Homo sapiens: one gene and its partners. The protein of the gene in region 5 purifies or fractionates together with the protein of the main gene of each other region. This does not show direct contact. Each region holds a gene or a part of one and is shown on either strand. Other genes may lie near its edges. The genes, in order: SNX25, POMK, GNPTAB, SPTLC2, SLC6A13, RNF121 and RAB5B.

Region 1 (4,355 bases), on a different chromosome or scaffold from region 5:
AAACACACACACACACACACACACACACACATCACACAAATTATTGGAAATACAGCACTAGAGGCTTGAGTAAACAGTACCAGTACTACAAAGAAAATAGAATTTTATGTGAATGACATGTATTTCAGTTCTAAGCAATATATAACTTAGAATGTAATTTCCTAATGCACTTAAAAAATTTAAAAAAAAATTTTTTTTTTTTTAAGAGGCAGGGTTAGGCCAGGCACAGTGGCTCACGCCTGTAATCCTAACACTTTCCGAGGCTGAGGAGGGCGGATCATTTGAGCTCAGGAGTTCAAGACCAGCCTAGGCAACATGGTGAAACCTGTGCCCAGCCCCTAATGCACTTAATTTCTTATTTAAGGCTATTTTAGGAATTCAAGGACAAAAATAATTACCAATATTCATTTTCCTTAGATTATACTTCCCCTCTTCTATTACCTGAAATCTTCGGGTAGTATTCATGAGAGATTTATACATGCTGCTTCATTTTCTCTGTCACCTTTAAAATACTATTTTCTCCAACTCCTCTACTAAACAATCTTTCTAGATGATAATCCACGTTTTACCTACCCAGAGGTGCCAGTGAGCTGGGAGATTTGCGGGAATGCATTTTCCAGGAAACAGAGTGCTAACCCACAACAGGAGGCTTTCAATGCCCTGGGAGATGGTCTGCAATACCAGGACTTTGATCTTGACCTAACCCTCTAAACTTCCTTCCCTCACCTACTAGTCCCTCTTCATCTCTTACCTCTTAATCACTGTTTCAAAAGCATTTATCACTATCCCACAGTATTTATTTATTGCCTGCTCCCCCATAAGATCTCCAGAGAGCAGGATATTTATGTGTCCTGTTGATTCAAACTCAGCTTCCAAAACAGTACCTGGCTCACACAAGATGCTCAATAAATATTTACCGAATGAATTATAACATCTTACAGTACTCAAGAACTAAGACATATTTTATTGATCAACAAACAAACTAGTAAAATCTCAGGGTCCTTACTTGCCATGGTAGAAAAAAAGAGGAGAGACATATCTGCTCCGCAACTCCTGCTAAATGAGATATGAAAAACGGATGGCTAAGTGGAGATTTTGTAAGAGAAACCAACTTTACTAATTTTTGAGACCACTTCTAAAAACAGGAGTTGCCTGCTCCTTAATATACTGCCTTGTTTATCAGCCTACTGAGCGAAATGTCTGTTACCTACTAATGCCTTCCGCCATTATCTCAGCGCTGCATTCTGAACTAACACACTCAGAGTAGTTTGGTGAAGTGTGGTGCTTTCTTTTAAAATAAAGGAGTGAGCAGGTCATGTGATAAGCAAATACAAACCCTGGGGACAAATGATCATTAACAAATATTCTTATGAAGTTGAGCCACTGCCATTTATCTTACCCCAAAGCGCTTGGGCAATTTCATTAGAATGATGGTATCACTCAGTCAAGCAGTGAGTGTTAAGCTGGGATAGAATAAAGTTCCCTTTAAAGGATTATGAGAAGGAATGTGGAAGAAAGATGGGGCAGTGGGTTTGGCACTGAAGAAGAGAAGCGCTCATTTAAAACACTGTTCTTTCCTACATTCCCTAACCCCCGCCCTAGTGTCCCACAGCGCGCTGAGGATGGCTTTCCTTTTGTTGCAAACCAGTGATTTCTGGCATCCCCCTTCCAAATCACAGAAGCCAGCGGGGACTGCACAACTATAATACGTATCCGCATGGTGGAAGGCAGGATAGGGTGGTGGGAAGGGTACGCGGGCTTGGGGGTGAGGCGCTGGGCCAGGGACCGAAGCAAGTTTCCTCATCGGCAAACGGTCATAAAGTTGCCTCCCACCGAGAACGGCCAGAAGAACCAAGCGGATCGCCAGGACCGTGCGCAGAGCCTGCACGTAGCGAACGCTGTGATTCCCTTCTTCCCCTCCCACGGCAAGCGACACCGAAGGTCTGGGGACACCCTTAGGGTTGTGACTGAGGATGGTTGTCGAGTGACTACAGAGCCCAGTAAATAACGCGCATCTCCTCCAGCACCGCGGAGCGCGGAGCCCGGAGCCCGGAGCCCGCCGCGCGCGGGCGCCGGGGAACGCTCGCGTCCACGGCCGGGCCCGCAGCCCAGCCCCCTGGCTCCCGGCTTCCCGCTTCGACAAGGGCATGCCGCGGCCCCCCGGAGCTCGGGGCGCGGGAGCTGGCACCGGAAGCGGGGAGGGCCGGCGGAGCTGGGCGGCCAGGAGTCGGGTACTTACCCCCGGCGGGCGGCGGGCGGCTGAGGTCGCGGCCAGCCGGCTCCAGGCGGCGGCGAAGTCGGGCGGCTGGGCGCGCGGGCTCCGGCAGACGAGGGCAAACAGGATCCCCAGCAGGAAGGCGGCCGCCGCGCAGCTCAGGTACAGGCTGAGCCTGAACAGGACGGAGCTCAGCCCCGCGGCCCCCGCCGCCTCCCCGCTGCCGGGCCCCAGGAAGGAGAGGGCCACGGCGGCGAGTGCGGCCACCGCCACGGGCTTCCACCAGCTCCGGCCGCCCGGGGCCCCCGGCGCCGCCGCTGCTGCTGCCTCCGCGTCCCCCGGGGACTCCGGCCGCCGCTCGCCCCTGAAGCCCGAGACAGGACGGCCGCCGGCGCCTGCGGCCCGCGCGGGGCTGGGGCCGGCGCCGCCACTGTCGGTCGCATCGGGGTGCATGCTGCTTCCTGGGCCGCTAAGGACAGGCACATCTCCTGCCCCCCGGTCCCCCGCCGGCGCTCCGGAGGCAGGGGGAGCCCGCGCTCATGCCTCGCCCGCGGCCCACCGAGGGAGCGGCCCCCGCAGACGCCGCCGGGCCCCTCTCGGCGACCCCTCAGCGCCGCCACCAGGCGCTGGGCCCGTAGCTGCCGGGCCGGGCGCAGCCAGGGAGCCCCACCGTGTTGTGACTGAAGCCTGGCCAGCCTGACGCGGGCGGGGCGGGGCCGCCCTGAAGTGCGTGTCGGGCGGGGCCCGGAGCCACCGCGGCCGCTGAGTGACAGCCGGGAGGCGCCCACCCACAGCGCGGGGGCGGGGTCCGGGCCGGGGCCCCACGGGGAGAGGGCGCGACCCAGCGCGGTGCACACCTCTCTTTCCCACGCTCCCCTCCTCCTCTACAGGATGCCGTCTGTTCATGGAAAATTTTGCTGCAGGTGTCAGCGGCGCTGGTAATTCCTGAGCTCAGGTGATCCCGTAATTCTCCCTCTCCGCTCATCACTGACGAGTAACCTCTTCGCTTTGCTTACAGCCGGCAAACATTTCTGCCTGGTTTTCACTCGCTATTTAAATAGGCAACCGTTCCCGAGACTCCCTGTCACAGTTTCTAACGACCTTCCCTTTCCCACCCTGCCGCCTTAGGGAAGGAATCAGACACGTGCGGTGGAGTAAGTGAAGCCTGCAATTCCTAGCTATGGAAAGGTCCAAAGAAGTCGGCCTGGTGCAACAGGGTGCACGCAGCTGCCCATAATCACTTTGGCTCCACTTCTGGTTTTTGTTTTGTTTTGTTTTGTTTTTTGTTTTTTACCAACTATTCAGTTCAAATGCTATCAGCCACGCAAAGGAACGTGGTCCAAATAATTTTTAGAGTATATATTTGCCTTTTCTTCTGTCATAGTCCCAGCCAGTAATATACAGATAACGCTTGCTAAGTAGATGCCAATATGCTACTTAAACACTGGCAATTACTGCTAAGACTAATAAAGAAGCAGATGTAGCTTTTGCTTTTAGTATCAATTGGTATTCATGGGCATTTCATTCTTTCTTTCTTTCTTTTTTTCTTTTTTTTTGAGACGGAGTCTCTGTTGCCCAGGCTGGAGTGCAGTGGGGCGATCTCGGCTCACTGCAATCTCTGCTTCCTGGGTTCAAGCCATTCTCCTGGCTCAGCCTCCCGAGTAGCTGGGATTACAGGCACGCACCACCACACCTAGCAAATTTTTGTATTTTTAGTAGAGACGGGGTTTCACCATATTAGCCAGGATGGTCTCAATCTCCTGACCTCGTGATCCGCCTGCCTCAGCCTCCCAAAGTGCTGGGATTATAGGTGTAAGCCACCGCGCCCGGCCTCATTTCATTCTTTCTTAAACCTTCTAAGTCAGAAATGAAGAGTGCCTCATGCTAGATGTGACTTTGCCATGCCAAGGGGATGATCAAAATAAGTTACCAGTTTCCTTTCTCCTCCTTTTTTAAGAAAATAGGGGCGGGCACGGTGGCTCACGCCTGTAATCCCTACACTTTCGGAGGCTGAGGCGGGCAGATCATGAAGTTAGGAGTTCAAGACTAGCCTGGCCAACATAGTGAAACTTGAACCCCGGAGGTGGAGGTCGCAGTGAGCCGACATCGCGCCATTGCACTCCAGCTTGGGCAACAGAGT
Region 2 (3,832 bases), on a different chromosome or scaffold from region 5:
CAGACTAATGCTTTCAAACCTTTACTTTTAAAACTGGAAATTGCACTCCTTATCCTAAAACTCATTATTTACCTTATAGTAGACTGTCTGTTTAAATGCTGTACTAAAACTATAAAGATACTACTGCCTTTGTCACGAAAGCCTTGGAACCACAGCCCGGCCTGCATGAATATACTCAGACAGCTGCAAAGCAGTTCTACTCCTCTCACCTTAGGGTCAACTCCGACCCCAACTATGCCCCCTGTCAGCATGAAGAAGCTAGAGTGATCAATGGCCTTTTTCCATCTTCATAGCCCACACCTTAAGAATAAGATGCTACAAAACCCCAAAGGGAGGGATTGAAACCGCCTTTGCAAAATTATAACTGAGGGCTGGGCCCAGTGGCTCATGCCTGTAATCCCAGCATTTTGGGAGGTCGAGGAGGGCGGATCACCTGAGGTCAAGAGTTCAAGACCAGCCTGGCCAACATGGAGAAACCCCATTTTTACTAAAAATACAGGCATGGTGGTGGGCGCCTGTAATCCCAGCTACTCAGGAGGCTGAGGCACGAGAATCTCTTGAACCTGGGAGGTGGAGGTTGCGGTGAGCCAAGATCATGTCACAGCACTCCAGCCTGGGCGATAGAGCAAGACTCAGTCAAAAAAAAAAAAAAAAAAAAGCAAAAGTAAACCAATGGGATTATAACAAACCAAAAACCTTCTTCCCAGCAAAGGAAACAAATAGAGTTAAGAGACAAACTACATAATGGGAGAAAATATTTGCAAGCTATTCATCTAACAAGGGATCAATATCCAAGGAACTCAAACATCTCAACAGAAAAAAATAACAATATGATCAAAAAATGGGCAAATGATCTAAACTGACATTCTCGAAAGAAGACATACAAATGGCCAATAAATTTGTGAAAAAATGCTCAATGTTACTAATCATCAGGAAAATGCAAACCAAAATCACAATGAGATACCATCTCACCCCAGTTAGGATGGCCATTATCAAAAAGACAAAAAATAACAAATGCTGGTGAAGATGCAGAGAAATGGGAACGCTTATACTCTGTTAGTGAGAATGTAAATTAGTACAGCCATTATGGAAAACAGTATGGAGGTTCCGCAGAAAATTACAAACAGAACTAACATATGATCCAGCAATTCCACTACTGGGTATATATCCAAAGGAAAGGAAATCAATATATCAAAGAGATATGCACAGCCAGGCTAAGTGGCTCACGCCTGTAATCCCAGCACTTTGGGAGGCCAAGGTGGGTGGATCACAAGGTCAGGAGTTCAAGACCAGCCTGGCCAACATGGAGAAACCCCATCTCTACTAAAAATATAAAATTAGCCGGGCATGGTGGCACATGCCTGTAACTCCAGCTACTCAGGAGGCTGAGGCAGGAGAATTGCTTGAACCCAGAAGTGGAGGTGGTAGTGAGTCGAGACTGCATCATTGCACTCCAGCCTGGGCAACAAGAGGGAAACTCCGTCTCAAAAAACAACAACAAAAAAAGAGATATGTGCATCCCGATGTTTATTGCAGCACTATTCACAATAGCCAAGATATGGAATCAACCTAAGTGTCCTTCAGCAGATGAATGGATAAAGAAAATGTGGTATATATACACAAAATAGAATACTATTCAGCTATAAAAAAGAAGGAAATCTGTCATTTATGGCAACATGAAAGGAACTGGAGGACATTATGTTACGTGAAATAAACTAGGAACAGAAAGTTAAACACTACAAGTTCTCATTCATATGCAGAAGTTTAAAAAAGCTTACTCAAAGAAGTAAAAAGCCTAACAGTTTTCTAGAGGCTGGGAAGGGTAGAGCAAAGGCGAGGATAGGCAGAGATTTGTTAAAGGATACAAAATTACAGCTAGATAAGAGAAGCAAGTTCCAGTGTTTCATAGCACCATAGGATGACTATAATTAACAATATATTATACACTCTCAAATAGCCAGAAGAGAAGATATTGAATGTTCCCAACCAAAAGAAGTGATACATGTTTGAGATGGCAGATATGCCCTGATCCGCTAACTACACACTGTAAGTAGGTATGGAAACATCACTGTGTACCCCATAAATATGGATAATTATTACATGCCAATTAAAAATAAATTGTTAAAAATCAGTATAATACCATCACAGAGTTTGAAAAACAGGAAAAGAAATTGCCCATAATCCCCCTTTCACCCTAGCACAATTTCTATCATTTTCATATTTTTTTTTTCCTTTGGAGACAGCATCTTGCTCTGTCACCCAGTCTGGAATGCAGTGGCAAGATCATGGCTTACTGTAGCCTCAAACTCCCCAGGCTCAAGAGATTCTCCCACCTGAGCTTCCCAAGTAGTGCGCACCATTATGCCAGGCTAATTTTTGTATTTTTGTAGAAACTGGGTTTTGCCATGTTGCCCAGGTTGGTCTGGAACTCCTGTGCTTAAGTAATCCGCCCACCTCCGCCTCCCAAAGTGCTGGGATTACATGTATAAGACACTGCGCCTGACCATTTTTGTATTTATCTACATATACACGTAATTTCACAGTTGAAAAGTCAATTATACAATTTTATATCTTGTTTTCTTCACTTATCATCATAAGGTTTTATTCATGTTGCCTCTTGGGGTTCCTAACTACACAACAGTTGCAGAATATTCCGTCAAGTGGATGGACCATCATTTAATGAACTATTCTAAAAGTTTTGTTTCTAGTTTTCTATCACTATGGCACTCTTTTATGCATTTGACTTTTTTCCTGCCTTGGATTACTTATTAAGATAAAGTCCGATTGGGAGGCCGAGGCAGGTAGATCACTTAAGGTCAGGAGTTCAAGACCAGCCTGGCCAACATGGTGAAACCCCATCTCTACTAAAATTAAAAAATTAGCCAGGCGTGGTGGCATATGCCCATAGTCCCAGCTACTCGGGAGGCTGAGTCACGAGAATCACTTGAACCCAGGAGGTGGAGATTGCAGTGCACCGAGATGGCGCCATTGCACTCCAGCCTGGGTGACAGAGCGAGACTCTCAAAAAAAAAAAGATAAAGTGCCAGATGTAAGATTATTGAGCTCAACAATAAAAACGTAGAGCTAGCAGGGCTCCTAACACTGGATGCCACACTGCTTCCCTAAGGGCTGAAACCTATGCCTACTGCAGCACTATTCACAATTGCCAAGATACAGAATCAACCAAAGCAAATGTGGTGCACATATGCAATGGAGTACACTTTGGCAGTAACAAAGGATGAAATTCCGTAATCCGTGCCAGCATGGATGGAGCTGGAGGACACTGTGTTAAGCGAAATAACAGGATGACAGCAATCGCAAATGAACCCGGACTCACTCTCTTTACAGCTCCTTCCCCAACACGCTTCAGCTGTCTCACTTCTGTTCTCAGCTCCTCGCAGGACAGCCAAGGTGAGCAGTTTTTCATCTGTCCTATCCTGAAGTGACCATAGGGACAGTGTGTGGGGTCCACAGTGGATTGTCGAGGAGCGATGAAGAAGTGGTCGAGGCAGAGGTAGAGCAGAGTATTCATCAGGGCCATGATCAGCAGCAGCCCAACAGCTGGCGGCACCTCTCGGGGGGCGAGGCCTCTCCTGCTGTTCTGGGGCTGCTTTTCCATGTTGACGGCCTCTGCAATTTCCTAAAATACACAATGAAACAAGAAGTCATGACAGTCAGCTTTCACTTCCTTTCATTTCCAAAAATGTGTTCTGATGCCTCTTCTACTCAAGGGTCCTGTAAGCTGCAGCGTTACCGTGGGGATTAAAGCAGGTATCGAACACCAGGCTTATCCCAAATGCCCAATGTTAGCTGTTTCCATAATCATTACTTT
Region 3 (3,832 bases), about 100 Mb from region 5:
CTTTGACATGCTTTGGTACTTGCAGTCAAGTCTGGCATGGTGCTACTTTATTTCATAGTAGATTATCAAAGCATGTTATGAGAGACTAATCCATGAGTTGAATCCTTGTCTGCTTTCCTTGAGTAATGGAAAAAAAGTAAATACGCTCAGTAAGAACGGTCAACGCAGCAGGATCTAAACAATGACTGTAGGTACAGGCAAACTTAAAGCACTTGTGAGTGTGAACGCTGAGCCCTTTGAAAATTTTAATCTTTCTAGAGACTTAATTTCTTTTTATAAAGGGAATCTTAACTCAAGAATAAAATGTATCAGAAGCCAGAAGTCATTTTATTTTCTCTTTGGTTTTATCGTAGGTTTATTTGACATGGCCTGTGCCAAACTGTGCCGAGGGCTGCCCAGGTTCCTGGATTAAGGATGGCTATTGTGACAAGGCTTGTAATAATTCAGCCTGCGATTGGGATGGTGGGGATTGCTCTGGTAAGGATGTGTTAAACTGTAATTCGTTCATTTTTATGGAATATTTTCTTCTTAATCATTATTGAACATGTGCTATAGACTTAACCAAACATTCTTTATGTATTAATAAAGAATCAGTAATGCTGGGCATGGTGGCTCATGCTTATAATCCAGTGCTTTGCAAAGCTGAGCTGGGAGGAGTGCTTGAGGCCAGGAGTTCAAGACCAGCTTGGGCAACATAGTAAGACCCCATCTCTATCAAAAAAAATTAGCCAAGTGTGGTGGTGCAAACCTGTAGTCCTAGCTACTTGGGAGGCTAAGGCAAGAGGATCATTTGAGCCTAGGAGTTAGAGGCTGCTGTGAGCTGTGATTGCACCATTGTACTCTAACCTGGGCGGCAGAGTGACAGCCTCTCTCAAAACAAACAAATCAGTAATCAATGGACTCTTTGGAGGTGGTAATTAGTGCCCTCATGTGGCCCAGTTTATTCATTGTTGAGGGCATTGAACAAGAGAAAATACACTTGAAAATGTCTTCTTATTTAAAATATGAAAATCTGGAATACACTTATATAAATCCAAGAGCAAGAATCACTCTAACTGGTTCTTATAGGAGCTCACTGCTGGTAGCTTTCAGCAGCAGATTGTGATAGGTCACAGAATTACTAAAGAGTTGCAAAAGAAATAAGTATTTTCTCTCCTCAGCAGCTCTTCCCTCTCCCTCACATAGTTATATTTTGACTTGTTGATAATAGCAATTTGTTACATTTACTTACTACCTTTCAATTTATAAAGCATTAAATTTATAGAGCATTATTCATTATATTCACTTGAATTGTGTTTGTTACCTGAGAGAGAGAGAGAGTAAGTATGTACACAAATGTTATCATCCCCATTTCCATATGAAGAAATGGATTTGGAAATGTTTGAATATTGGAGAAAACAAAGCTTCAAGTTGTATTTCAGTCAGATATGTCAGATGCGCTTTAGCTGAGGAGAGAGAATACAGATGTGCAAAGTAGATCTGTGTAGACCAGAGAAGTCAGTCTCTACTGGAACATTAGCATTTGATAACAAGGGGTATCAAACATGTTACCCACGTTTGGACATGTTTTTGGCAGTTCTGATAGTCACAGTCTTTGGAATAATCTCTTCTTGTTTTCGTGCTCCTCCATTTCTGTCAGCACGTGCCCCTTGAGCAAATGTAAGCCCTGTACTTGTAGGTTGCACAGCTACAAAATGCCAGGGCCTGTTCATCACGCTTCTGTCAAGTGACTCCCTTTTACGTTTATTTTCTTCTTAAGGTATATGAGATCTTCTACTAAAGAATGAGGTGAACCTTTTCTGACTAAAACTTACACATCAACCTTGAAAACATCAATATGAAATAAGGAACTGTCTTTTTCGTTTTTTGTTTTTTGAGACGGAGTTTCACTCTTGTTGCCCAGGCTGGAGTGCAGTGGTGTAATCTTGGCTCAGTGCAACCTCCGCCTCCCGGGTTCAAGCAATTCTCCTGCCTCAGCCTCCCAAGTAGTTGGGATTACAGGCGCCCACCACCACGCCCAGCTAATTTTTGTGTTTTTAGCAGAGATGGGGTTTTACCATGTTGGCCAGGCTGGTCTCAAACTCCTGACCTCAGGTGATCCAGCCTCCTCTGCCTCCCAAAGTGTTGAGATTACAGGCGTCAGCCACCACACCCAGTCCAGAACTGTCTTTCAAAATTGTAATTACAGCAAGAATCCCTCTTCTTCCTCCGATCTACAGGAAACAGTGGAGGGAGTCGCTATATTGCAGGAGGTGGAGGTACTGGGAGTATTGGAGTTGGACAGCCCTGGCAGTTTGGTGGAGGAATAAACAGTGTCTCTTACTGTAATCAGGGATGTGCGAATTCCTGGCTCGCTGATAAGTTCTGTGACCAAGCATGCAATGTCTTGTCCTGTGGGTTTGATGCTGGCGACTGTGGGCAAGGTATGTTTACTGCCAAACAAATAAGAATGGGAGCATAAAACATCCTTGACAGGTAGAGAGAGTTTTGAATGGCTTTTGTTATTTAAAATAATGATTCTCTGTGTATCCCTTTACCAGCCTTGCATTCAAACTAGTTATGAAAGTAAGAGAACAACATAAATCACTGAAGAGGATCTTTTCCTGTTATTGTTGCAGTCTGGTGTTTTGTTTTGTTTTGTTTTGTTTGGACCAAGCAGATTTACCTTAGCTGAAAATATGTGGTGAAGTTTTAATTTGGAAACAAAAAAGGATATCAATAATTCATTAAATAAAGATGGTTCAAACACTGGATTTTGTTGATAGCGTATTAATGGAGTTTGTTTTGGCAGAAAGTTTTTTTCAAATGGATAAAAAGATGGAAATTGATTATTGTAATTTATTGTTAAGAACCATGCCATATCTCTATAGTGAGTCAGGATCACTATTTCATGGTAATTATTGTGACTGCCTCAGATAGTGAAATAAGCCCTATACCAGTAACTGTTGTATTAGGATATCTGATTATTTTGAAATTAAAGTCACTCTTAGAAAGTGAAAACTCAGTGCCTACTTCAGCAGCACATATACTAAAATTAGAACAGTTTAGGCATTAGCATGGCCCCTGCACAAGGACGACATGCAAATTCATGATGCATTCCCTATTATTTTTTTTAAAAGAAAGTGAAAACTCAGACTCAAAGAATTAAAGGAAAACAGAGGAAAAATGCCCAGTTAAAAAAAAAATCATGTTTCTGTTTTTTCCTCTAGATCATTTTCATGAATTGTATAAAGTGATCCTTCTCCCAAACCAGACTCACTATATTATTCCAAAAGGTGAATGCCTGCCTTATTTCAGCTTTGCAGAAGTAGCCAAAAGAGGAGTTGAAGGTGCCTATAGTGACAATCCAATAATTCGACATGCTTCTATTGCCAACAAGTGGAAAACCATCCACCTCATAATGCACAGTGGAATGAATGCCACCACAATACATTTTAATCTCACGTTTCAAAATACAAACGATGAAGAGTTCAAAATGCAGATAACAGTGGAGGTGGACACAAGGGAGGGACCAAAACTGAATTCTACAGCCCAGAAGGGTTACGAAAATTTAGTTAGTCCCATAACACTTCTTCCAGAGGCGGAAATCCTTTTTGAGGATATTCCCAAAGAAAAACGCTTCCCGAAGTTTAAGAGACATGATGTTAACTCAACAAGGAGAGCCCAGGAAGAGGTGAAAATTCCCCTGGTAAATATTTCACTCCTTCCAAAAGACGCCCAGTTGAGTCTCAATACCTTGGATTTGCAACTGGAACATGGAGACATCACTTTGAAAGGATACAATTTGTCCAAGTCAGCCTTGCTGAGATCATTTCTGATGAACTCACAGCAT
Region 4 (3,832 bases), on a different chromosome or scaffold from region 5:
TTAATTTTGTCTACTAAATTATGTGGGTTTTTTTTTGAGTCTCTCGCTTTGTCGCCAGGCTGCAGTGCAGTGGCACGATCTTGGCTCACCATAACCTCCACCTCCCAGATTCTAGCAATTCTCCTGCCTCAGCCTCCCGAGCAGCTGGGATTACAGGTGTGCACCACCACACCCAGATGATTTTCGTATTTTTAGTAGAGACGGGGTTTCACCATGTTGGCCAGGATGGTCTCGATCTCCTGACCTTGTGATCCACCCACCTCGGCCTCCCAAAGTGGGATTACAGGTGTGAGCCACTGTGCCTGGCCCAAATTATGTTGCTTTTTGTCTTTTCCTCTTATTGACCTCCCTTATGTTTCAACTTTTCCTTTAAGCTGTTTACAGCATTTGTTTGAGAATAAAAAAATGTGGCCGGGCCAGTGGCTCGTGCCTGTAATCCCAGCACTTTGGGAGGCCGAGGCGGGCAGATCACCTGAGGTCAGGAGTTGGAGACCAGCCTGGCCAACATGGTTAGACCCCATCTCCACTAAAAAATACAAAAATTAGCCAGGTGTGGTGGCACACATCTGTAATCCCAGCTACTGGGGAGGCGGAAGCACAAGATTTGCTTGAACCTGGGAGGTGGAGGTTGCAGTAAGCCGAGATCACGCCATTGCACTCCAGCCTGGGCTATACAGATCCTGCACATTTGGCATTACATTAATGCCAGTCTTTTCACAGCCTTTTCCCACTCTCTGTAGTACCAGTACATCTTCCTCAACATACCTCCTTTGTGTCAGCATGAACCTGGGTGCCCTGTATCTTCAGCACATGCTCCCAAACTGTCTAGTGCCTTATTCTAATTCTTTACCTTCTCTAAATCTTTTTTTTTTAACTTCTTAAATGCACAAATTTATTTTTTCTCAACAAACACACATCTTAATGCCTTTACAACTTTTATCTCCCCAAATATACCTTGCTTTTCTTTATACATGCTGTATACAGAGTTGTTTTCCTTATATTTAGTAGTTATTGCTTTTTTGTGCCCTTTTGGGTCCTGTACCTTCTCTAAATCTTTCCTAATTAAAGTGTACACAGTCAGTTGCACCTATGTAGAATAAAGGAGACACAGCCTTCTTTAAAGAGAGCTCTAGACTGAGTCCTTTGGATCTGATAACTCTTCATGTTTGTTTATGAGAATTCCACTTAAAGAAGAATGAAGAAAATCCTTCCCCATCCCCTCTGAAGCCATAATACCAACTGCCCATATGACTTCATGTTGAAACCCAAATTCTTCTTTTTCTCTCAGGGAGCACCTTTTCCTTACTTCCCTTTCATTCTCTTTGAATCACATTACTTCCAGGTTCCCTGATTTAATTTCCTCTCCCATATTCATTTCAGTAAACATTTACTGAGTGTCGGAGACTGTGGTGGACACTGGGGATTCAAAAATTTACAAAAATTGCTCCTTCAATGAGTTCAATCAAACTGGAGAAATGCTTTAAGATCCAGCTCAAAACTCACCCATCCAACAAGATGTGCCTTTCTTACTGAGCCTATACTAAGCAGGTCACTCCTTTATTCTACATCTTCAGGGCCACTTTGCATATAATAAAATTTGTTCAGTATAATTACTGTTCATTTGCTTTTCAAATGTCTTCTGGTTTCATTATACATCTGGACTTCTCAAATACATTGAAAGCTATCCTAGGGCAGGGCTTTCCATTATGTATGCCTCATACAAACCAAAGAAGCTGGTGTAATCTGCACACCTGGTAAGTATCCAATAACACACTCTGATAAAACCTCTCTGACCTCATGGCCCACTGCTCGCCCTGGGGCACGGTGCTCCAATTCCAGGGACCTCTTTGCTACTCTTCCGTCAGCTAAGCAAGCTCGCTTCTGTACTGTGGCCTTTGCACAGATGCTTCTTTCTCCAGTGGCTGTCAGCTCCTTCAAATCTTTGCTCAGATGTCATTTTCCTTCCCAAGGAGGCTTCCTTACCCTGACCACCCTATTTAATAGTGTTATCGGCCCGCCCACAGGGCACTCTCAACTCCCCATATAGGTCCTGCTCTATTTTTTTCCATAGCACTTGACACCTTCTAACATCGTACACAGTTCATTTGTTTATTATGTCTGTCTGACTGTTGCCCCCTACTAGACTGTAAGCTCCACAAGGACAGAGATGTTTGTATTTTATTCACTGATCTATCCCAGGCCCCTAGAGAGTACATGAAACTCAAATGTTTAATGAAAGAAGAACAAATTAACATACTTTACAATTTGGAATCCACTATTTGATCTATGGCATATGTACCAAATGAAGGTTAACACAGTAAGGACAAGACCATTTTCCCTAACAAAATACATAAGCCCTGGTCTCACATCACAGATAAGGATAAGGACAGACTGGTCTGTGATCTGCAACAAAACGTACCCAATTTTGGCAGGCATGTAGAGCATCAAAGGCACTACTGGAGAGTCTTCATTTCCATAGATGATGAAGCCCATCTCTTTCAGGCGTCTCCTGAAATACCTGGTGTTTTCAGCTAACTGTTGTACACACTCTTTACCTGGAAAGTCACGGTGAGAGAAAACAAAATAATCCTAAGTAAAAAGGAATGGAAAAAAGACAGTAAATCTCCTCTATCTCCATTCTATCTAATCAGTTCTGTTTCGTTTTTTTCCATTTCACCATAAAATATTTTACAGAGTAAACCATATGGAATATAAATGTAAAATGTCTCATTTTGTATTCTGTCATTCTACCTGTTAACAGCAGAAGTTATAATAATGTAAAAAACGTTTAATGGAGCGTTAGCATCCTCAAAGAATTTCAGCCATACCCCCTCACTGAGCACTCCACAAATCCCTTGACAGTAGGCAGGATATTTATGATTATCTTCATATTATAGGTGGGGAGACTCTCACCAAGGTAGTGACATGCCTACAGTTGCACAATAGTGTGTGGCACATTACAAGTAGCAAGTGGCATAGCTGCAACTAGAATTTACATCTTCTAACTTTAAGATTCATTCTAATTAACTGTGCTGCAAATAAATTTTACACATAAGACCAGAGATGAAGCCTTTAGACCCCCAAATTTTCATCTTCTGAGTTTCATTTTGTTGTTTCCTTACAATTCTTTTTTTCTTTTTCTTTCTTTTTTTTTTGAGACGGTGTCTCACTCTGTCGCCCAGGCTGGAGTGCAACGGCACGATCTTGGCTCACTGCAATCTCTGCTTCCCGGGTTCAAGCGATTCTCCTGTCTCAGCTTCCTGATAGCTGGGGTTACGGGTGCACATCACCACGCCCAGCTAACTTTTGTATTTTTAGTAGAGACAGGGTTTCGCCATGTTGGCCAGGCTGGTCTCGAACACCTAACCTCAAGTGATCTACCCACCTTGGCCTCCCAAAGTGCTGGGATTACAGACATGAGCCACCGCGCCTAGCCTGTTTCCTTAAAATTCTTACCAGACAACAGTAACATATCTGTAATAGTATAAAATCGTATCTTTAATCCTATTTTGCTCATCTTCCCTAAAACACAAATAGATTAAAACACACGTTTCTGTCTGCAATTGCCAACTGACTAAATATTTGGGCAGGTTTTGACATTATGGTAAGTCAATCTTTGAAAAGATATCCAAACAACTGTTCTGTTATACAGAGCAAAGCAATAAATTTAAAAGATCTGCTTGGAAAGGGCTAAGAACTGTTTTAGAATCTTCTCAACCATGAATACTCATGAATAGAAAAGGCTGCAGTAATTTTCATATATAGATTATAAAATCAGCAAGTTCATATTTTTAAAAGTCCAAGCATGATACATGACATAAGTTCTTATGAC
Region 5 (3,832 bases):
TGTGCGGGTCCACTTATACGTGGATTTTCTCCCGCCTCTGCCACCCCTGACAAGCAAGTCCAGATGAATTGCAAGTTTGAAAGACCTAAAACGTACCAGAGAGAAGATACGCGAAACAAATGAATGAACAAAACATATATCCATATATCAAACTAACCATATTTCAAATTGATTTAAGCAAATGGCTAAACAACATAAAAGTGGTCAGTTCTCATTGAATATGTTAATTTTTTCTTTAAAAAGTTCCTGACATTTGCCTGTGACGCTGGTGAATTCTTGATCTTATTCTTGACATAAGCTCTCCATGGTCGACTTGGGTGATTTCTGGTGTGTCCGTGTTAAGCGGGGATATAGTGACAAGCCCAATTCCGGTTAATGTGGCAGAACGAGAGGAGGAAGTGGACCCTTGGGTGAGGACCATACCTGTGTTCCACTCATGGTAGCAGCCGCCCCAGGGCAGGTCGATGGTGAAGCTGCTGAAGAGGTAGAACAGGGCCCAGGCCAACACAATGATGTAGTAGACGTTGAGGAGGATGACGATCATCTGGGAGGCATAGCCAATGCCTGCGGGGAAACTGCAGAATTGGGCTAGGAACGGTGGACAGCGGTGGCGTGCACCTGTCATTTCAGCTATGCGGGACGCTGAGGTGAGAGGATTGTCTGAGGCTGGGAGTTCAATTTACCATTGAGGGAAACTGCTATTTTTGTAACTCCCTGTGGATCTATAATTATTTCAAAATAAAAACGTAAAGAAAATCCTATATATGGAGAAATAATGAAATTAAATACTGTAAATTTTAAATACTTGTGTCAAGATAGAACTTTTTTTTTTTTTTGAGATGGAGTTTTGCTCTTGTCACCCAGGCTGGAGTGCAGTGGTGCAATCTCGGCTCGCTGCAACCTCTGCCTCCCAGGTTCAAGAGATTCTCCTGCCTCAGCCTCCTGAGTAGCTAGGATTACCGGTGCCCACCACCATGCCTGGCTAATTTTTTGTATTTTTTGTATTTTGTATTTTAGTTTCACCATGTTGGCCAGGCTGGTCTCGAACTCCTGACCTCAGGTGATCCACCTGCCTCGGCCTCCCAAAGTGCTGGGATTACAGGCATGGGCCACCACGCCCGGCCAAGATAGAACTATGAATGAAATAATTTTTTCTCATTTAAAGTTCTCTTTTAAAATGTTTATAATTGATTTAAATATGTCTTAAAATACAACAACATTGTTATGTGTTTAAAACATATGGCTAAAGTGGCTTTGCACTCTACTTACCTAACCTAAAGCCTCTGCCCCATCCTCACTGCTGTTTCTTGCCCATTCTCTGATAGATCAGCTGACTAGCTCAGTATGCAGCCCACAAACCAAGGGTTTAGCATAGAGACTCGGGATCTTATCTTAACCTCAGAACTGCTACTAATCACTCAAGTCATTCCAAACAAGGTTTATAACCACGAATGAAGACGCTTTGGAGTCAGGTACAGAGCTACTCACCCTCAAAGATGGGGCAGATCTTCCTCCAGGCTGTGACGCCTCCCTGGCTAGTGTACTGGCCTAGTGCTGTCTCCAGAAGGAAGACAGGAATGCCACAGGTAAAGAGGAAGACGAGGTAGGGGATGAAGAAGGCACCTGTGGTTAGAAAACAGGCTGTTCATTTCCTGGGACTATTCTCCTCATGGTCTGCATTCACCTCCTCCCATTACCAACCCATACTGCCAGTCAGAATCTCGGAGGCAGAGAACATGCAAAACTGCAGGAGACAGCTGTCTAGATGTTTGGAACATAGCAGAGATCAAGAGTCACCCCATTATCTAAGATCTACACAGCCTCTTGCCTTTTTTCACTGCAGTTTCAGTCTATACCTATTAAAGTTTGTTCCCCACTGAACAATTACTGCTTAACACATAACTTGTGGCAATAACAAGGAGCTTATTAAATAATGGATGTCTAGGAGCATTGGCACAGCCCACAGTCTATAATTCTTTTCAAAGAAAGCATTGCTCTTAACGTCAGGTAGTCTTTTAGTAAGCTGAAATCAGATGCCCTTTCAGTCATTGTTATGGTTTGAATGTATCCCCTAAAGTTCGTGGTTGGAAACTTAATTCCCTATGCAACAGTGTTGGGACGTGGAGCCTAATAAGATGTAAGTCATGAGGGCTCTGCCCTCATGAATGGATTAATGTTATTACTGTGAGACTGTGTTTGTTATAAAAGTGAGTTTGGGCCAGGCACAGTGGCTCACGCCTGTAATCCCAGCACTTTGGGAGGCTGAGGTGGGAGGATCGCTTGAGCCCAGGACTTCAAGACCAGCCTGGGCAACATGGGAAAACTCTGTCTCTAAAAGAAATACAAAAAATTATCTGGGCATGGCTGTGTGTGCCTGTAATCCTAGCTACTCGGGAGGCTGAGGTGGGAGGATTGATTAAACCTGGGAGTTCGAGGCTGCAGTGAGCTGTGATTGTGCCACTGCCCTCCCTCCAACCTGGGTGACAGAGCAAGACCCTGTCCAAAAAAAAAAAGTGTATTTGGCTCTCTGTCTTTTATATGAATATTCTCTTGCCTTTCTGCCTTCTGCCATGGGCTGACACAAAGAAGAAGGCCCTCACCAGAGGTGGACTGCTTGCCCTGGACTTCCCAACCTCCAAAACTATAATAAATAAATATCTGTTCCTTATAAATTACCCATCTCAGGTGTTCTGTTGTAGCAACACAAAATGAACTAAGCTAGTAATCTGTCTCCTTCTGTTTTTATAAGCATTGGCGGAGACAAGACTACTGATGCCAGATATACTGGTATTTTCCCTACCATGGACCTGTCATCTGCTGGCAAAGTGGACAGCACAGTTCATAGGACACAGAGTACCAGAGAAGACAGAACTGCACAGACAGGAGAATCTGCAGAGGGTCCCCCTCAAGCTTCCAACTGAGTACTAGTCAGTGCATATGTGTGAGAAAACTGAGGTGAGGGAAAGAACCATTCAAAATGATTAAAAGTAATGGTGCTCACACACTGCCAGAGTAAATAATCTCAAGATTCACCAGGCATTAGGCAGAGTACGCAGAAGGGCATTTCCTCAGTAACGGGGAATAATTATCCCTAGACCGAGCACACTTCTATTGCTACCTAACCAATCTTAAAAGCAAGATATAAAAAGAGCAAGTAACTTCACTGATCCCAGAACAGAGCTAAAGAATATTTACAGAAATACGAAATTGGCCGGGTGCAGTGGCTCACGTCTGTAATCCCAGCACTTCGGGAGGCTGAGGTGGACAGATCACCAAGTCAGGAGTTCAAGACCAGCCTGGCCAATATAGTGAAATCCTGTCTCTACTAAAAATACAAAAATTAGCCTGGCATGGTGGCACGCACCTGTAGCTCCAGCTACTTGGGAGGCTGAGGCAGGAGAATTGCTTGAACCTGGGAGGCAGAGGTTGCAGTGAGCCGAGATCGTGCCACTGCACTCCAGCCTGGGCAACAGAGTGGGACTCTGTCGCAAAAAAAAAAGAAAGAAAGAAAAGGCAGGGTGTGGTGGATTACGCCTGTAATCCCAGCACTCTGGGAGGCCAAGGCAGGCAGATCACGAGGTCAAGAGATCGAGACCATCCTGGCCAACATGGTGAAACCCCATCTCTAGTAAAAATACAAAAATTAGCTGGGCGCGGTGGCTCAAGCCTGTAATCCCAGCACTTTGGGAGGCTGAGGCAGGTGGATCATGAGGTCAGGAGATCGAGACCATCCTGGCTAACACAGTGAAACCCCATCTCTACTAAAAATACAAAAAAATTAGCCGGGTGTGGTGGTGGGTGCCTATAGTCCCAGCTACTTGGGAGGCTGAGG
Region 6 (4,440 bases), on a different chromosome or scaffold from region 5:
ATGGCATCTAATATTGGAAAACATAGGTATAATATCCTGAATATACACAGCGTGTAACTTCTTTCCAAAGAAGTAGAAAAGTACACCAACTCCATCTTAGCCAGGCTACCCATTACCCAATTATAATCTCGGCTCCACATTAGAGTCTATCAATAAAACAGAAAGTGCTACACAGGGGGCAATATTAATGCCACATGTAAACCACTGCTCTTTTGTAAACCCAACCTTTTTCAGCTCAAACCCATCTCTATCATAAAGACTTTACTGACTCCCCCTAGCTGACTCAAGTGCTTGATCTCTTGTGCCCCACTGCATTTGTTACATGCCTCCATTACAGCAATTATCTAGTATTATAATACGCTATTTGCATGTCTCTTCACTCGACTGTAAATTGGTAAAGATCCTGTCTTACTCATCTTTGAATTATCAGTGCATAACACACAGTAGACCCCATAATTACATATTAAAGACGGATTTCACCTGCTGTTTCACAAGCTAAGGCTGCAAAGAAACAGCTGGGGAGACATTAGTAGAAACCTGAATACCAACTAAGGTCTGCCAGACCAGACCTCTGTTATTTTTGGAGCTTGAAGGGATGACTGTTCTGCTTCTCAGAGCTTACTTTCTCAAACATACAACAACAAAAAAGATAGAACCAGTCCACACGGAATTTCCAGACAACAGATTATACCTTTTCTCAGGAAATGAAACAAGTAACAAGGTTCCTGGAATGAATGCTAGTGGTTTCATATAAAGTTAACTCCTATGCATGATACTCTGTAAAGTCTATTATACTACTAGACGCTCTCAAGTCCTTCAAGCAATAAAGAAAAGCTAAGAAACAAAAATCAAACATGTCTTAATGAAAATGTTATTTTCTTAGCCGGGCGCGGTGACTCACACCTGTAATCCCAGCACATTTGGGAGGACAAGATCGGCGGCTCACCTGAGGTCAGGAGTTCGAGGCCAGCCTGACCAACATGGAAAAACCCTGTCTCTACTAAAAATACAAAAAATCAGCCGGGCGTGGTGGTGCATGCCTGTAATCCCAGCTACTCAGGAGGCTGAGGCAGGAGAATTGTTTGAACCCAGAAGGCAGAGGTTGTGGTGAGCTGAGATTGCAATACTGCACTCCAGCCTGGGCAATAAGAGCGAAACTCCATCTCAAATAAAAAAAGAAAATGTTATTTTCTCCTCTGCCAAAACTTCTGCTGTTTATCTCAATGAACCCTGACATATGTAACTACAGCTTTGAGATATACGTAATTGTCTCAAGGGAGAGCCCATGACTAACAAACCTTAAATAAGAACTTCAATACAGTATTTACCCTTTCCAAAGTGTCTTCAAATATATCTCACTGAACCACAGCCAACTGTAATCACAGAAATGTAAAAGCTAGAAGGGGTCTTGGAGGTCATTTCCACAACCACTCCACCTAACCAACCAACTGGTATCCAAACACCTGTAGTCTCTAGTGATTGGGAGGTAGAAGACTACAACACTTCTTTAAAAATCCCCCTGCTGTGATCACCTGTCAATTTCTCAGTCCCTTCCTCCCACCTTAATGATCCCAATCAGGTAATCCAACTCCTCCAACTCATCCCACTACCAGGCAACAGTCTTATTGCTTCCCAAGTCCACTTCTCCCTTTCTCTGAACCTCATCTTCAATCATCCCCAATCCTCCCCACTCTTCCCACACCCAACACACAGCAAGGGGCCTCTAAGATTCTGACCCCTCAGAGATCTCACTGGTTCTATCTCTGACAACCAATCCCCTTCCTCCTATTCCTGTGATGTCTTTGCCCATATGCTGGCATGTGCAAGATCACAAACACCACTAGCTATCAATGTCTCCATGGCTTCAGAATCTTTTCACCTCTGTCTCTGCTTCTCTGCCCTGTCCCTTCATTCCTTTCACACTCAACATCTCCTTCCTCCTAGTGATTCCTTCAAGGACCACTGGTATTTTAATACACCAGTCTTTAAATGCCTATTAGATAGGTAAAGGGAACATACAATCTCAAGGAGCTCACCTTCAAGGAACTCATAAATCCAGAAGAAGAGAGAGACACTTATTTATCGTTTAAAACTCAGCAACTCCGGGAAGCCTTCCCTATCCCAAGCTGAAATGTTGCACACTTCTCAGTGCCACCATTATATCTCTAATGCAATGACTAGTCTTCTTGTCTGTCTCCCACCACTAGACTGTGGGCTCTTCAACGGAGGGGCCCCTTGTCTCCCTAGCACCTGGCCCAGAACCCGGAGCAAAAGTCATAATGTTTATTAAGTGAATAAATGCATGAATTCCGGCATACAATCATTTATTCATCCACTTGTTCCTTCATTCGTTGGCCAAAACTTTACTGAGCATGCATTAGATACAAAGTCTTAGAATGGAACGATAAATAAAACAGTTCCAACTTTAAGATAACTCAAAGCTATACTACTAGTGGATTAGCACTCTTTCCCGGTCTGTGTCCCCAACCCCCACCCTAGGCTTAGACAGAGTCCTCTCCCACAGTAGAAGCCCAGCCTTCCCCTGAAGAAATTCACGTCCCTCCAACTCAAACTACCTCTTAGCCCTTCGGTCCTACCCTAAGACACCCAGCTAGTAATCACAAAATCTTAACACCCCCACCCCTCCGACCTCTCTCTCTGTCCTCCATCTTCACCCTTGAGGCTAATGCAAGTCTTCTACTCCCAAGGCCGCCTCGGAGTCCCCAAGTCAGGAGTGCCTCTGACTTCGCTCTCCACGCACCCGCCCCCTAGTCAGCTCCTTCCCTCTCAGGATCTTTCCCTTCTCTCCTAAGACCCCCACCTCCCGATACCTCACTGCCCCTCCCCTCAGTCTCAGGTTGAGTCTCTCCTCGTCTCTCAACTCCGCTTACCTCATCCAGCTCCCGTTCCCCAGCAGCACCACCTCCAACCTCCACCTCCACCACTGCCGCCATCTTCACGGCTCGCCCCCTCACCGCAGTCCCCGCGCGAGCCAGCTGCTTCCGCTGCTCAAGTGCTCCTAGCCAATCGGCGGCTCGGACTCCAGCAGAGGGGGCGGGGCATCAACACAGGCGGAGACTGTCAGGGATCAGGAGGTTATCTACTTGCTGCACGTTTCAGGGTCAAGGAGAGGGGAGTACCGTGCCCTTGCAAGCTTCAGCAAGGGAGCGTTCTTGGAAAATGAGAAATTTGAATCGCATTATTTTCAGTGCAACTATTTAACCAATTCTTCCCTTTGGAGAGCCAAATGGGAGCGTTCCAAAACGGGCAACTTTCGCGACGCTCCCTCAGTCTGGGCTCCAAGGAGCGAGACGTGGGGACTAGGAACTACGTTTCCCAAGCTGCACTGAGGCTGACCCGGAAGTTTAAATTCCGCTCCCTCCACGAAAGAGTTGTAGTGAGTGAAAATAAATATTAAAACACACGGAAATGTATTTTCCTGGCTGCAGCACCTGCCATCTTGCCTCGGTAGGACTCATTTTCAAAAACAGCAGCTTCTTGAAGCCCCAGAACGCATTCCTGTGCTACGGAAGACGGAAGAGTAGCTCTCGGGGTCAGAAGGCGAAGGTCAGAAGGCCGAATTGGCGGGAGAATAGGTTTGGTGGTCCGAGATCCGAGGCAACGGTGGCTCCTCGAGGTCCACGGTCCCGGGTGAGGGGCGTTGGGATTTGTTGATGGGGAGGGGAGTGGCCGAGAGGGAGGAGGGTGGCCATCAAGGAAATGAACTGAGCAGCCTGTTCCCGATGAGCTGTGAAAGCAGCGGTGCGGCTTGAGCTCCCGAAACTGAGAGCTGAAGAGCCTTGCGGGACCTCCAGGGCACCCACATTCCGCGTCTTACTTAGGCTGTCATGCCAGTTCACACACCTCGGCACACTTTTCTAACCCACATCCTGCGGCCCCAGCTTCTGCCTTACCCTCCTTTTTATACACCATTCACTGTCCCACCCCTACGTATACCTTCATAACTGATTTTTCAGCAGCCGGTGAACTCGATACCTTGCAAGCCTGTAGCCCCAGCTCACACGCCTCTGGGCGTCCGCCTGGATCTGTCTGGTGAATGGAACTAGGATGGCCTGTGAGCCCACAGAACGTCTAGAAAAGTCAGCTTTACATTGGGACCAACAGAAAATTACAGGGAATTATCTACATCATCCACAGGCATCCCATTTACTTAAAAATAATCATTTTTATTTTGTGACACTTAATACGGAGAATATTGTAAATACTGTACACCCATCACCCTAAATTGACTACTGGCATTATGATTTATTTGCTTATTTTTTAAAAGCTAGATAATACAATAAAAGTTAAACTTACCTGTTTTTTCTACTCTCAAGCCTATTACCCTCTCATCCTCTCCAGAAGCAACTATTATGAATTAGAATTAGCTTGTGTTCTCCCAGTCCATTTTTAATAATTATATGTAGCCATGACTATATA
Region 7 (4,538 bases), about 56 Mb from region 5:
CTGGAGGCTGAGGCAGGAGAATCGCGTGAACCTAGGAGGCAGACGTTGCAGTGAGCCGAGATCATGCCACTGCACTCCAGCCTGGGTGACAAAAGTGAAACTCCGTCTAAAAACACACACACATACTCCTACACAACTGTCTCTAGGACTGGCTTGCAGGTGAGAAAAGTTCCTTGGGGGAAAAAACCGAGGTTTCCAATGGGCGCTGTACAAAGGCTGGGTACAACAGAGGGCTTTTAAAGCTAGTAAGGACAAATTCAATTAATAAGGTGGTAGTATGAAATGCCCCAGCTGTACTCTGACTCTGAGATTTAGAGGAAAACCGATTTCAAATCCAGATAAGCTTGGAGCTTCTCAGATCCCTACAGAAAGACACACACTGTACTCCAGCCTAAGTGACAAAGCAAGACCCTGTCTCTAAAAATAGAAGAAAAGAAAAGAAAGACAAATACAGGGGCCTCTTAGGAGAACCATCATCATCATGGATAAGAAAGGGATAGTCAAGTAATGTGAACATGCAGAGACCATGAACATCCAGAGACCATGAATTTGAGATAAGGGTCTGAAATTCCTTTCTTTAGCAGAGATGCCAACAATTATCCCAACCAAAATGATCCTTTCTCCCCATAAAGTTTTGTTCCATCTCTTTGGGCACTTCCTAGGACACCCAGCACACAACTTGGGGTGTGTGTGTTTGTGTGTACTCAAGGTGAATAACACACAGTACAGCCCTCTGCTTGTCGGACTTGGTAGAAGACAAAATGAACTGTGAAAGGAACACAATAAATAACAGAGTATCATCCCAGAAGGGAAAACTGTAGAAAGAATAAGACTAGAGTTTGATGAGAACATGAAAACACAATTGCCTTTTGTGACACATCCCCCAAAGCAAAGCAAGATTAGTCTGATTTGCTGTCTCTGATCCTTGACCTTCCTAAATGAAATATGAATAAGGTATGTGTGGGAGGATTTATACTTCTTAAACTGCTGTACACCTTCCATATTTTAAAATATGTACATATTAACTTTTGTAATTAAGAAATGTAGTGATGGCCGGGTGTGGTGGCTCACGCCTGTAATCCCAGCACTTTGGGAGGCCGAGGTGGGCGGATCATGAGGTCAAGAGATTGAGACCATCCTGGCCAACATGGTAAAACCCTGTCTCTACTAAAAATACAAAAATTAGCTGGGCGTGGTGGCGCACGCCTGTAGTCCCAGCTACTTGGGAGGCTGAGGCAGGAGAATCTCTTGAACCTGGGAGGTGGAGGTTGCAGTGAGACTCCGTCTCAAAAAAAAAAAAAAAAAAAAAAGAAATGTAGTGATAAAATATATTGGTAGAGACGCAGAAAAGGAGGAAGTACAGTAAGGGAAAATCCAATAGGCTCCAATCTATGAGGGACTAAGAAGGCTAGCAGACCATTAAAAATATGTGGGGAGGAGGGTACTCCACTCCTCTGCTTTGGCAATCTTTGTCTTTTTTTTTTTTGGAGACAGGGTCTCATTCTGTTGCCCAGGCTGGAGTGCAGTGGGAAGATCATGGCTCACTGCACCCTCGAACTCCCGGGCTCAAGTGATCCTCCTGTCTCAGCCTCCCAAAGTGCTGGGATTACAGGCGTGGGCTACTGCACCTCTGTATCTTTTTCTCTACTCACCATCTTCCCCAGATACTTCATAGTTTGACCCAACTTTCTAACAGCACAGAAATCTGGGCTTTTGAAGTAGACAAAGAACAAGGGGTGATGCCAAGCTTTTGAAATGGAATTTCTCACTCTTCCCCAAATCTCTTCCTCAGTGATATCACCGCATAGTTTCGGACCTGTTAACTCCATTACCTGCCTGGGAAATACCCAAGTCAAGTCTAAGTCCCACAAAAGTTTCACCAACTATGATCAGAAGATCTCCTGATGGCTGAGGATCTCTAAGCCCCTTTCCCATGTAGATAATGAAATAGATATGAAATAGATTCTCAGTTCTAGGAGACATGGTATTTGCTATAGACCACATTATTAAGTGGGAAAGAAGTGGACAAAACATGCCCCCAATCCAACTTCTTAGCTCTTTCATAGGACATGAAACAGTAAGTTAAGAAACAGACTGCAGTATAGACCAGCTATGAGGCCAACAGAAAGTGTAGGGGCTGAGTTTGGAGCAGCCAACAGTCATGGAAAAAAAAAAATTACTTTGATCTTCATCCCTACCCTGGGAGTTTTAAAAAGCTTCAAATTACCACATCTAAACACTAAAGGGAACAAAAGAGTGTGTACTCCCAAGACCCAGAGCCCCCAGCCCACCCTTCAGCATTCCCAGAAGTTCCCATAACTGATACCAGGCCCTGCTTCCATTACTTCAACTACCTTAGTCTTCTAGATTAATACAGCCTTCTTCATTTTCCCCAGTTCTCCCTCACTGAACCCAAATCTCTCTCAGCTCAACACCATAGCACCCTCAGTTCTTTTTACAATAGGCACTTTCCCTGAAAAGAACGCTTCTTACCCAACTAAGAACCCTTCTCAGGCCCTTCCAATGAACCTCTCTGCAGGGACCCAGCCCCAGTCACCCCCGGGGCTCGGGCGACAGGTCTGACCCTCCTCACCTCCCGGCAAATGGGCTTACCTCACCCGCTGCCCTGTTCCTTTCCCCAGCTCCTCCCTCTTCAGCGCTGCTTAATGAGGCCTGCCCCTGCCCTCACTCAAGCTCCAGGCCTCCAGCCCCCGGCCCTCGGCCTGGCCGCCGCCACAGCCCAGCCGCCTTCCCGACTCACCAACTTCGGGGTCCCAGGCCGCCCAGTCCCCTCCTCAGCGACCCCCATTAGGCCTGCCGGGGCCCGGCCCCCTTCTCCCCTCTCCGGTGGGCCACTCTAACCCCTCGCTTAGGACCAGACCCGCCTCCGCTCTCAGGCCAGGCTGCTCTCATCTCCCGGGCGCTTCCGCCCCTGCCCTTTGGGCTCCATCAGCTCGGTACCTGGGGCTCCGTCTCCCCCGTCGGCCCCAAGCCTGTGTCGAACAGACAAACAGCTGCAGCTCAACCAAACCCTCCTGCCCCTCCTTCTCCTCCTCGCCCTGGGGCGGGGCTCCAGCCAATAGCTCGATTACCCGCCTACCTTCGAGGGTGGGCTATATGTGCACTCATCCACCAATCCTCTGGAGAAAGGCGAGTCTCTTTGGGCGCTGTCACCAACAAGTACGAGCAAGGGACGCGACAGGCGGGGCCACAAGCCAATAGCGAGGGAGAAACCTCGAAGATGGACGAGGTAAGGAGCCATTAAAGAGCAAGCTCCTGAAGACAGGGGGCGGTACACTGCCGACAGGCGTATGTATCCACCAATAAAATCTCGACACCCCATGACCCCGCCTTTTGACTCATAAACATCTAATCAGGTGAGTGATGGAGGCGGGTCAAAGTGAAACTTTAACCAGTACTGCGAAAATACGGTACTTGACTGGCAGGCAAGGAGGGGTTGAAGGAAGCCTTAGGAAGGCCGCTACTGACCTTCGCCCCTCCCCCTGGACTTGGCTGGGGCTGGCTCTAGTGCCCTGCCTTCTATGACAAATTCGCGGGCGTAAAGGGAAATACCTCTTCTAGGGATCCGGAGCCTGGGAATTTAAGTAACCCTGACATCAGCGCTTCCTCCTTTTAGTGAGGCTTCAGTGGACAGGCGTATTTGGGGTGGCCGCGGGCGGTCTGAGATGTTTTTTGGTGGAATGAGACAATGGCAACTACAAGAAGTGGTAGCTTGGAGACGCTTTTTCAGAATCGTATGTAAATGTAAATAAAAGAATCTTTGGAAAACTTTTCTGTCTGTGATATGAAACAGAAAGGAAAAACGGCGGGCTTACTGGGAAATGCAGTGTCGAAAGGCAAATTCCCCGGGAGCCCTCTTCCTGCCGCTATGTATGTGCATGGGTGTGTGTATGTATGGGGTGTGTGTGCATATATGGTGTGTATGTGGTGTGTGTGTATTTGGTATATGTATACGTGGTGTGTGTGGTATATGTGTGTATATGATGTGTGTGTGGTGTGTGTATGTGATGTGTGTGTGGTGTGGTGTGTGTGTGGTATGTTGGCTGGGGGAAAGGAGGTTTGCTGGTGTGTGGAGAAAGTGAAGTAGGAAGTATATAGGCTTCAGTTTCCCCAGCCATAAATAGGGATGATAATAACCACTTTGTTCACCGTCAGCACTAGCCAAAATGGGGTGGGGTGGGCAGCCATGCACAGAGAGATTAGGAAAAGGGGTCTGAAATCAATGATCACATACACACATTCATATTCTGTCTCCCACCATTCTTTCAGTAAATAAGAGGAGGAAAGAGATGAACTATAAAACTAGGCACATTTTTTTAATGAGCTACAAACTAAATTACAAATAACGTTAATAGCAAGAGCACTCAAGGACAAGGGTGACAGAGACAAATCATAAAAAAAAAATGCTTTTTTTTTTTAGCACTGTCATTACAAAACCCCAAGGTGCACATGGCAACAAATCCACCCACTATGACCAAAAAAAAAAAAAAAAAGCCAACTCTACTATTGGATATAAC

Evidence for each region.
Region 1: the proteins of SLC6A13 (region 5) and SNX25 purify together in Homo sapiens (affinity purification with mass spectrometry; one large-scale study listed by BioGRID and IntAct). This does not show direct contact.
Region 2: the proteins of SLC6A13 (region 5) and POMK purify together in Homo sapiens (affinity purification with mass spectrometry; one large-scale study listed by BioGRID and IntAct). This does not show direct contact.
Region 3: the proteins of SLC6A13 (region 5) and GNPTAB purify together in Homo sapiens (affinity purification with mass spectrometry; one large-scale study listed by BioGRID and IntAct). This does not show direct contact.
Region 4: the proteins of SLC6A13 (region 5) and SPTLC2 purify together in Homo sapiens (affinity purification with mass spectrometry; one large-scale study listed by BioGRID and IntAct). This does not show direct contact.
Region 6: the proteins of SLC6A13 (region 5) and RNF121 purify together in Homo sapiens (affinity purification with mass spectrometry; one large-scale study listed by BioGRID and IntAct). This does not show direct contact.
Region 7: the proteins of SLC6A13 (region 5) and RAB5B purify together in Homo sapiens (affinity purification with mass spectrometry; one large-scale study listed by BioGRID and IntAct). This does not show direct contact.

Annotation. Positions count from the first base shown.
Region 1 is NC_000004.12:185,208,140-185,212,494, reverse strand, and holds the start of SNX25 (sorting nexin-25), read right to left. Parts: upstream 2,898-4,355; 5' UTR 2,669-2,897; coding exon 2,240-2,668; intron 1-2,239. UniProt on the Homo sapiens protein: May be involved in several stages of intracellular trafficking.
Region 2 is NC_000008.11:43,103,336-43,107,167, reverse strand, and holds part of POMK (protein O-mannose kinase), read right to left. Parts: intron 3,641-3,832; 5' UTR 3,620-3,640; coding exon 3,338-3,619; intron 1-3,337. UniProt on the Homo sapiens protein: Protein O-mannose kinase that specifically mediates phosphorylation at the 6-position of an O-mannose of the trisaccharide (N-acetylgalactosamine (GalNAc)-beta-1,3-N-acetylglucosamine (GlcNAc)-beta-1,4-mannose) to generate phosphorylated O-mannosyl trisaccharide (N-acetylgalactosamine-beta-1,3-N-acetylglucosamine-beta-1,4-(phosphate-6-)mannose).
Region 3 is NC_000012.12:101,764,682-101,768,513, reverse strand, and holds part of GNPTAB (N-acetylglucosamine-1-phosphotransferase subunits alpha/beta precursor), read left to right. Parts: intron 1-353; coding exon 354-477; intron 478-2,219; coding exon 2,220-2,423; intron 2,424-3,209; coding exon 3,210-3,832. UniProt on the Homo sapiens protein: Catalyzes the formation of mannose 6-phosphate (M6P) markers on high mannose type oligosaccharides in the Golgi apparatus.
Region 4 is NC_000014.9:77,519,027-77,522,858, forward strand, and holds part of SPTLC2 (serine palmitoyltransferase 2), read right to left. Parts: intron 2,556-3,832; coding exon 2,420-2,555; intron 1-2,419. UniProt on the Homo sapiens protein: Component of the serine palmitoyltransferase multisubunit enzyme (SPT) that catalyzes the initial and rate-limiting step in sphingolipid biosynthesis by condensing L-serine and activated acyl-CoA (most commonly palmitoyl-CoA) to form long-chain bases.
Region 5 is NC_000012.12:242,191-246,022, forward strand, and holds part of SLC6A13 (sodium- and chloride-dependent GABA transporter 2), read right to left. Parts: intron 1,624-3,832; coding exon 1,489-1,623; intron 565-1,488; coding exon 424-564; intron 1-423. UniProt on the Homo sapiens protein: Mediates sodium- and chloride-dependent transport of gamma-aminobutyric acid (GABA). Mediates transport of beta-alanine. Can also mediate transport of taurine and hypotaurine.
Region 6 is NC_000011.10:71,927,576-71,932,015, reverse strand, and holds the start of RNF121 (E3 ubiquitin ligase RNF121), read right to left. Parts: upstream 2,971-4,440; 5' UTR 2,955-2,970; coding exon 2,892-2,954; intron 1-2,891. UniProt on the Homo sapiens protein: E3 ubiquitin ligase which accepts ubiquitin and transfers it to substrates thereby promoting their degradation by the endoplasmic reticulum-associated degradation (ERAD) pathway which is a pathway involved in ubiquitin-dependent degradation of misfolded endoplasmic reticulum proteins.
Region 7 is NC_000012.12:55,972,563-55,977,100, reverse strand, and holds the start of RAB5B (ras-related protein Rab-5B), read right to left. Parts: upstream 3,024-4,538; 5' UTR 2,962-3,023; exon of another isoform or gene 2,810-2,961; coding exon of another isoform or gene 2,762-2,809; intron 1-2,761. UniProt on the Homo sapiens protein: The small GTPases Rab are key regulators of intracellular membrane trafficking, from the formation of transport vesicles to their fusion with membranes.